Regions from separate parts of the Homo sapiens genome. Here region 1 is linked to region 2. Evidence: fine-mapped expression QTL. A gene starts in region 2. The other region holds a variant in brackets. All regions are shown on one strand. Distances are from middle to middle.

The links.
Region 1: its variant is fine-mapped to the expression of RANGRF in whole blood (INTERVAL, PIP 0.97).

What each region holds. Positions count from the first base shown.
Region 1 is chr17:8,156,131-8,159,035 of GRCh38, forward strand. No RefSeq gene overlaps it. Among named protein-coding and RNA genes, the nearest start is that of PER1, 5.2 kb to the left of the region's middle. RefSeq lists silencers at 146-405, 2,876-2,905 and enhancers at 906-965, 2,516-2,755. The variant C/CAA (reference allele first, on the strand shown) is at 1,626.
Region 2 is chr17:8,287,389-8,290,293 of GRCh38, forward strand. RANGRF (RAN guanine nucleotide release factor) reads left to right here and starts at 1,282. Exons shown (of 5, transcript NM_016492.5): 1 at 1,282-1,477; 2 at 1,568-1,684; 3 at 1,870-2,026; 4 at 2,115-2,200; 5 at 2,425-2,699. The coding sequence starts at 1,401. The coding sequence ends at 2,548. It overlaps SLC25A35 (solute carrier family 25 member 35), which reads right to left. Exons shown (of 5, transcript NM_001320870.2): 5 at 2,673-2,905. RefSeq lists enhancers at 945-1,174, 1,535-1,654, 1,935-2,004 and a silencer at 1,735-1,784.

The DNA.
Region 1 (2,905 bases), 130 kb before region 2:
TCTAGACCTGAGTTCACGGTCCCTATTCTCCACAACCATCAGAGCTCCCACCGCAGTTATCACGTATTTGCATGATCCCACACACACACACTCTAACACCTTCCTAACCGACCACACCACCCCGGAAAAGTCCACACCGATCGCCCCGCATCTCTCCCCCATCCCCGAGCACTCACCGCTCGGCGCGCACGCACACTCCAAATTTCTTCTAGGACTTCTAGCATTACACTGGCTCCTCCAAACCCGCCCACGGGCCGGGCTGCCACGCCCCCCACGCTTATTGGCTTAGGGGCGCCGACCCATGCCCCGTGCCGCGTGCAGCCGCCGGCCCCCGCACAGCCTCCATTGGCACCTCCGGCCGCCATCGTCTTCTCATTGGTCAGCAGGCCAACGGGGGCGGGAGAGATACACGTGAGAGAGGGGCCGCCCCAACGCGGGGATTGGAAGCCTGACCGGAAGCCACGCCCTCGACACTTCTGAGGTTCTTATTGGCTGGGGAAATAACCCCCGACCTGCCAAGATTGGTGACGTAAATGCCAGTCCCGCTCTCCAAGCTTTCTCATAGGCTGAGAGGTCTTGGAGCTGTAGGGTACACGTGCCGGCGGTCTCACGCGGCAACTTGTTTACCCAGAAGCTGGGGATTTTCCTTGACGACACTCTTAACCACGGCTGCTAAATCTGCGCAGGCGCAGCCGTGAGCGGTGGCAGCGTATAAGGCGCACTTTGTACAGAGACCCGGGCGTGACTAGGGCGCCTCTGGCGCTGGGGTTCCGGCCCTGGGTCCCACCGAGGCTCCCTGAAGCTGGAAGGTGAGAGTATTAGGGTGAAGCGGTCTTCAGATCTCAGCACGGTGTCTTGGTGACGATGAAAATAAGAGAGCCTCTTCCTGATTGTTTTCTGCGGGCCAGGCCAGGCGCTTCTCACAAACTCTGAGGAGGCCAGCTCACATACTCCCCCCGCCTCACAAATGAGACCGAGATGCAGGGGGGTTACGTAATCTGTTCGCCTGTAACACGCTAGTCAGTAACAAGGCGAAAACTTGAACCCAAGTCCCCGACACCATAAAGCAGGCGGGTCCTGGGGCCCATGGGAACTCTTAAACCTGGAAGGAATTTGAGTTGGCAGTGCGAAATCCTGAGCACTGCCTGGCATATAGTAAGACTTCAATCAAGTTGGACATTCTGGTAATGATTGTGTACCTAATTATAAGAATCACGGTGGCTCACGCCTGTAACCCCAGTACTTTGGCAGGCTGAGGTGGGTGGATCACTTGAGGTCACGAGTTTGAGACCAGCCTGGCCAACATGGTAAAACCCTGTCTCTTCTAAAAAAAAAAAAAAAAAAAAAAAAAAACGACGGCCGGGCGCGGTGGCTAACGCCTGTATTCCCAGCACTTTGGGAGGCTGAGGCGGGCTGATCACGAGGTCAGGAGATCAAGACCATCCTGGCTAACACGGTGAAACCCCGTCTCTACTAAAAATACAAAAAATTAGCCGGGCGAGGTGGCGGGCGCCTGTAGTTCCAGCTACTGCAGGAGAATGGCGTGAACCCGGGAGGCGGGACTTGCAGTGAGCCGAGATCGCACCACTGCACTCCAGCCTGGGCGACAGAGCAAGACTCTGTCT[C/CAA]AAAAAAAAAAAAAAAAATCCCTACAAAAATTAGCCGGGCATGGTGGTGGGTACCTGTAATCCCAGCTACTCAGGAGGCTGAGGCACAAGGATTGCTTAAACCCAGGAGGCGGAGGTTGCGTGAGCCGAGATTGCACCAAGGCACTCCAGCCTGGGTGACAGAGTGAGACTGTCTCAAAGCAAAAAAAGGCCGCGCGCGGTGGCGATTCTCCTGCCTCAGCCTCCCAAGTAGCTGGGATTACAGGCGCATGCCACCACGCCTAGTTTTTTGTATTTTTAGTAGAGGTGAGGTTTCACCATGTTGGCAAGGCTGGTCTCGAACTCCTGACCTCAAATGATCTGCCTGCCTCAGCCTCCCAAAGTGATAAGATTACAGGCGTGAGCCACCACACTCTACCTAAAATATACTCTCATTTGTTCAACATCGTGTTAAGTGGATTTTTTTTTTTTGAGACAGTCTCGTTCTGTCACCCAGGCTGGAGCACAGTGGGGTGATCTGGGCTCACTGCAACCTCCACCTCCCAGGTTCAAGCAATTCTCTGCCTCAGCCTCCCGAGTAGCTGGGATTACAGGTGCCCGCCACCATCCCCGGCTAATTTTTTGTGTGTATTTTTAGTAGAGATGTGGTTTCACTGTGTTGGCCAGGCTGGTCTTGAACTCCTGACCTCGTGATCCGCCCACCTCGGCCTCCCAAAGGGCTGGGATTACTGGCGTGAGCCACCGCGGCCGGCCACTCATTGTTGAAGCACCTGGGAACAGGGATACTAAGATGCCACATCGGGGCCTCCTGGACCTACAGGCTGTGGCAGTTCAGTGTGGGGTCTAAAGTCACAAGTCATACAACAGAGTACAGGGGTAGTAGGCCATCTACAGGCAGCTCCACAACATACTCAGCTTTGTCTCTGTGAGCCTATTTAAACCACAATTTACTAACCCCATCTGGGCGCTGGCACTGGGTTAGGCACAGAGGGGAAGACATGCTTCACAGAAATGGCCAACTACTTCATCTACTGCTGCACGGGAGCCACGGCAGAGCGTCTAGAAGTTAAATCGAGGAGTAGAAAGGAGTCCAACAGCAGGAACATGCCCCAGTAAAGGGAAACGAAAGCTGGGAACCCTAGACCACAGGGCGCACCGGGCTTAGAGACACGGGCTGGCTATGACACTTCCCATTACCAACTCCTAGTGCCCCCCTGTGGCCACTTTGAGAATCACACTTTGCCCTGCCCAAGGTCAGGGCCTCTTGCAAAGTCCAGTCCATTACCAATGTATCTTCTCAA
Region 2 (2,905 bases):
AGGCGGATCATCTGAGGTCGGAAGTTCGAGACTCACCTGACCAACATGGAGAAACTCCATCTCTACTAAAAATACAAAATTAGCTGGGTGTGGTGGTGCATGCCTGTAATCCAGCTACTTGGGAGGTTGGGGCAGGAGAACAGCTTGAACCCAGGAGGCGGAGGTTGCAGTGAGCCAAGATCATGCCATTGCACTCCAGCCTGGGCAACAAGAGTGAAACTCCATCTCAAAAACAAAACAAAACAAAAAAACCCAATATATATCAGGTCTGTTATGCTCTAAACACCGTGCCGGGTGCTGAGGATCAAAGATGAATAGAGAAATGAACTGAAATGATATAGTGAAGTTAAAACTTAAAGAACACAACAAATCTGTAAAAGACAAACAAAAGAGGGTTTAATCTGTGCTTCTGTCCAGGTGTGTGGAGCTGGGGGTGGGGTTGCACCTGCCCGGGAGCATTCCCAAGGCAAATATTTGAGAGGAATTAGATTTCTAATACCCAGGTTGGCTCTCACTTTCAGGAAGATGTGAGACCTGAATCCTAACCTGGACGCATTGTTCCCCTAATTCCCAGCAGCAGATCTATGAATTAGCGGTCTGGGTGGCAGCCCATTCTTCTTTCAGAGGCCCAGAACACCGTGAAACTATGCTTTCCTGACTCAAGAGACCCTACCTAGACGTGGGCCCCTTTGACGAGCACCTGCCCCTCAGGAGGGTCTCAGGCGACCTTCTTGGAAGGTGTGACCACTTGAAAAGGACGAGGAGGCCAGGCGCTGTGGCTCTCGCCTGTAATTCCAGCACTTAGGGAGCCGAGGCGGGAGGATCGCTTGAGTCCAGGAGTTTGAGGCCAGCCTGGGCAAGATTGGGAGACACTCCCCACCCCGCCCCATTTCTACAAGTAATTAAAAATTTAGCCGGGCGTGGTGGCGGGAGCAGGAGCCACTCAAGAGGCTGAGGCAGGAGTATCACTTGAGTCCTGGAGGTGGAGACTGCAGTGAGCGGTGATCGCGCCACTGCATTACAGCCTGGGCGACACAGCGAGACCTGTCAATCAATCAATCAATCAATCAATCAAGAGGAGGCTGGCGGGAGCATGCTCGTGACCACCGGGGGCGACATAGACCCTAACCCTAAGTCCAACCCCAAGGCAGACCCCACCGTCCCGCCAGGCGCACTCCTAAGAGCGCGGCTTCCGGAGCAAAGCCGCTGACCCCCGCCCCCAGGGTCTTGGCGCCGATTGGCCAACGAGAGCGCAGGGCGGAGCCAAATCTTAAAGGATCCGGGAGCTAAGCCAGACCCGGGTGGCGGTGGCAGCTGCGAAACCCAGGGAGCCGATGCCACGTGACCCAATGTGGACTTCTTTTAAACCTTTCTAATGCCCATAACCCAGCCTCAGACCCATGGAGCCCACGAGAGACTGCCCGCTGTTCGGGGGCGCCTTTTCCGCCATCCTCCCCATGGGGGCCATTGACGTAAGGTGAGAAGGCCGGGGCGCCCAGGGGCGGCTGACTGGGTGGGTTGTGGGAAGAGACCGGGGTCAACCAGGGTCTGCCTCGCCTCACTCCAGCGACCTCCGACCGGTCCCGGACAATCAAGAAGTTTTCTGCCATCCCGTGACGGACCAGAGCCTGATAGTGGAACTTCTCGAGCTGCAGGCCCACGTACGGGGCGAAGCGGCTGCGCGGTGAGGGAATGGCCCCCGGCTGGCCAATGGCAGGGGCGGGGTCGGACCAGTGGGCGGGGCCCGCGGCCGACGGTTAATCCGGGCGGTGAGACCACGCACGGGCCGGGAGCCAGGCCTGCAACTTAAAGATGCTCCCGGGGAGGCGACCAGAGATGTCCCTTCCTGACCCCGCTTCCCTACTCCAGGTACCACTTTGAGGATGTTGGTGGCGTGCAGGGGGCTAGGGCTGTCCATGTGGAGTCTGTTCAGCCTCTCAGTTTGGAGAACCTGGCCCTGAGGGGCCGCTGTCAAGAAGCCTGGGTCCTCTCTGGCAAGCAGCAGATAGCTAAGGAAAACCAGCAGGTGAGGGCCCGAGAGTGTGTAATGTCCTGGAAGGGCGGTAGCGGGGACGCAGAGATCCAGGTAAGCATCCTGACTCTGATCCCCTTAGGTAGCAAAGGACGTGACACTTCATCAGGCCTTGCTGAGGCTGCCCCAGTACCAGACTGATCTCTTGCTTACCTTCAATCAGCCCCCGTAAGGAGGAAGGAACGGGCGGGTATCTCATGACTGGGTTCCCAGGAGAATCGGGCTGGGAGGGACAGAACAGGGAGACTCACTGGTGGGATCCTCCAAGGAAGCAGGAGTGGGCCAGAGGTTTGGGGTAACTGATACCCAGGTCCTCTGGGGAACAGGAATTGGCAATTTCCAAACCTCAGGCCTGGATGATGTTCTGTCTCCATCTGTTCCCCCACCCCAAGCCCTGACAACAGGTCATCTCTTGGCCCCGAAAATCTGTCACCTGCACCCTGGAGCCTGGGTGACTTTGAACAGCTGGTGACCAGTCTGACCCTTCACGATCCTAACATCTTTGGTCCCCAGTAAAGGCGCTGAAGCACTGCATGATGTTGCTGAGAACTTGGGGACTCGGTTCTGTGAGGGGGAAAAGAGGTTGAAAAGAGGGTTTCCTCTTATTTCTTCCCTGTGCGTAAACATAAGACAATCCCTCTTCAGAATAAACTTGCTTTATAATCAATATAATCTCTGTGCCTTTGAATCTAACAGGACACCTGGGTCCCAGACGCCTGGGAATTGGGTCTCTCGATTCCCTTTGGTTTTGGAGGGAGGAGTTTAAAACTGTGCATGGGAGCAGGAGGGACTCAAGGGTGGCAGTGGTGAGTGGGAGGAAATACACTTTGGGATGACTCGTTCAGCCCTGAGAGAGGGGTGTGAGTTACCCAG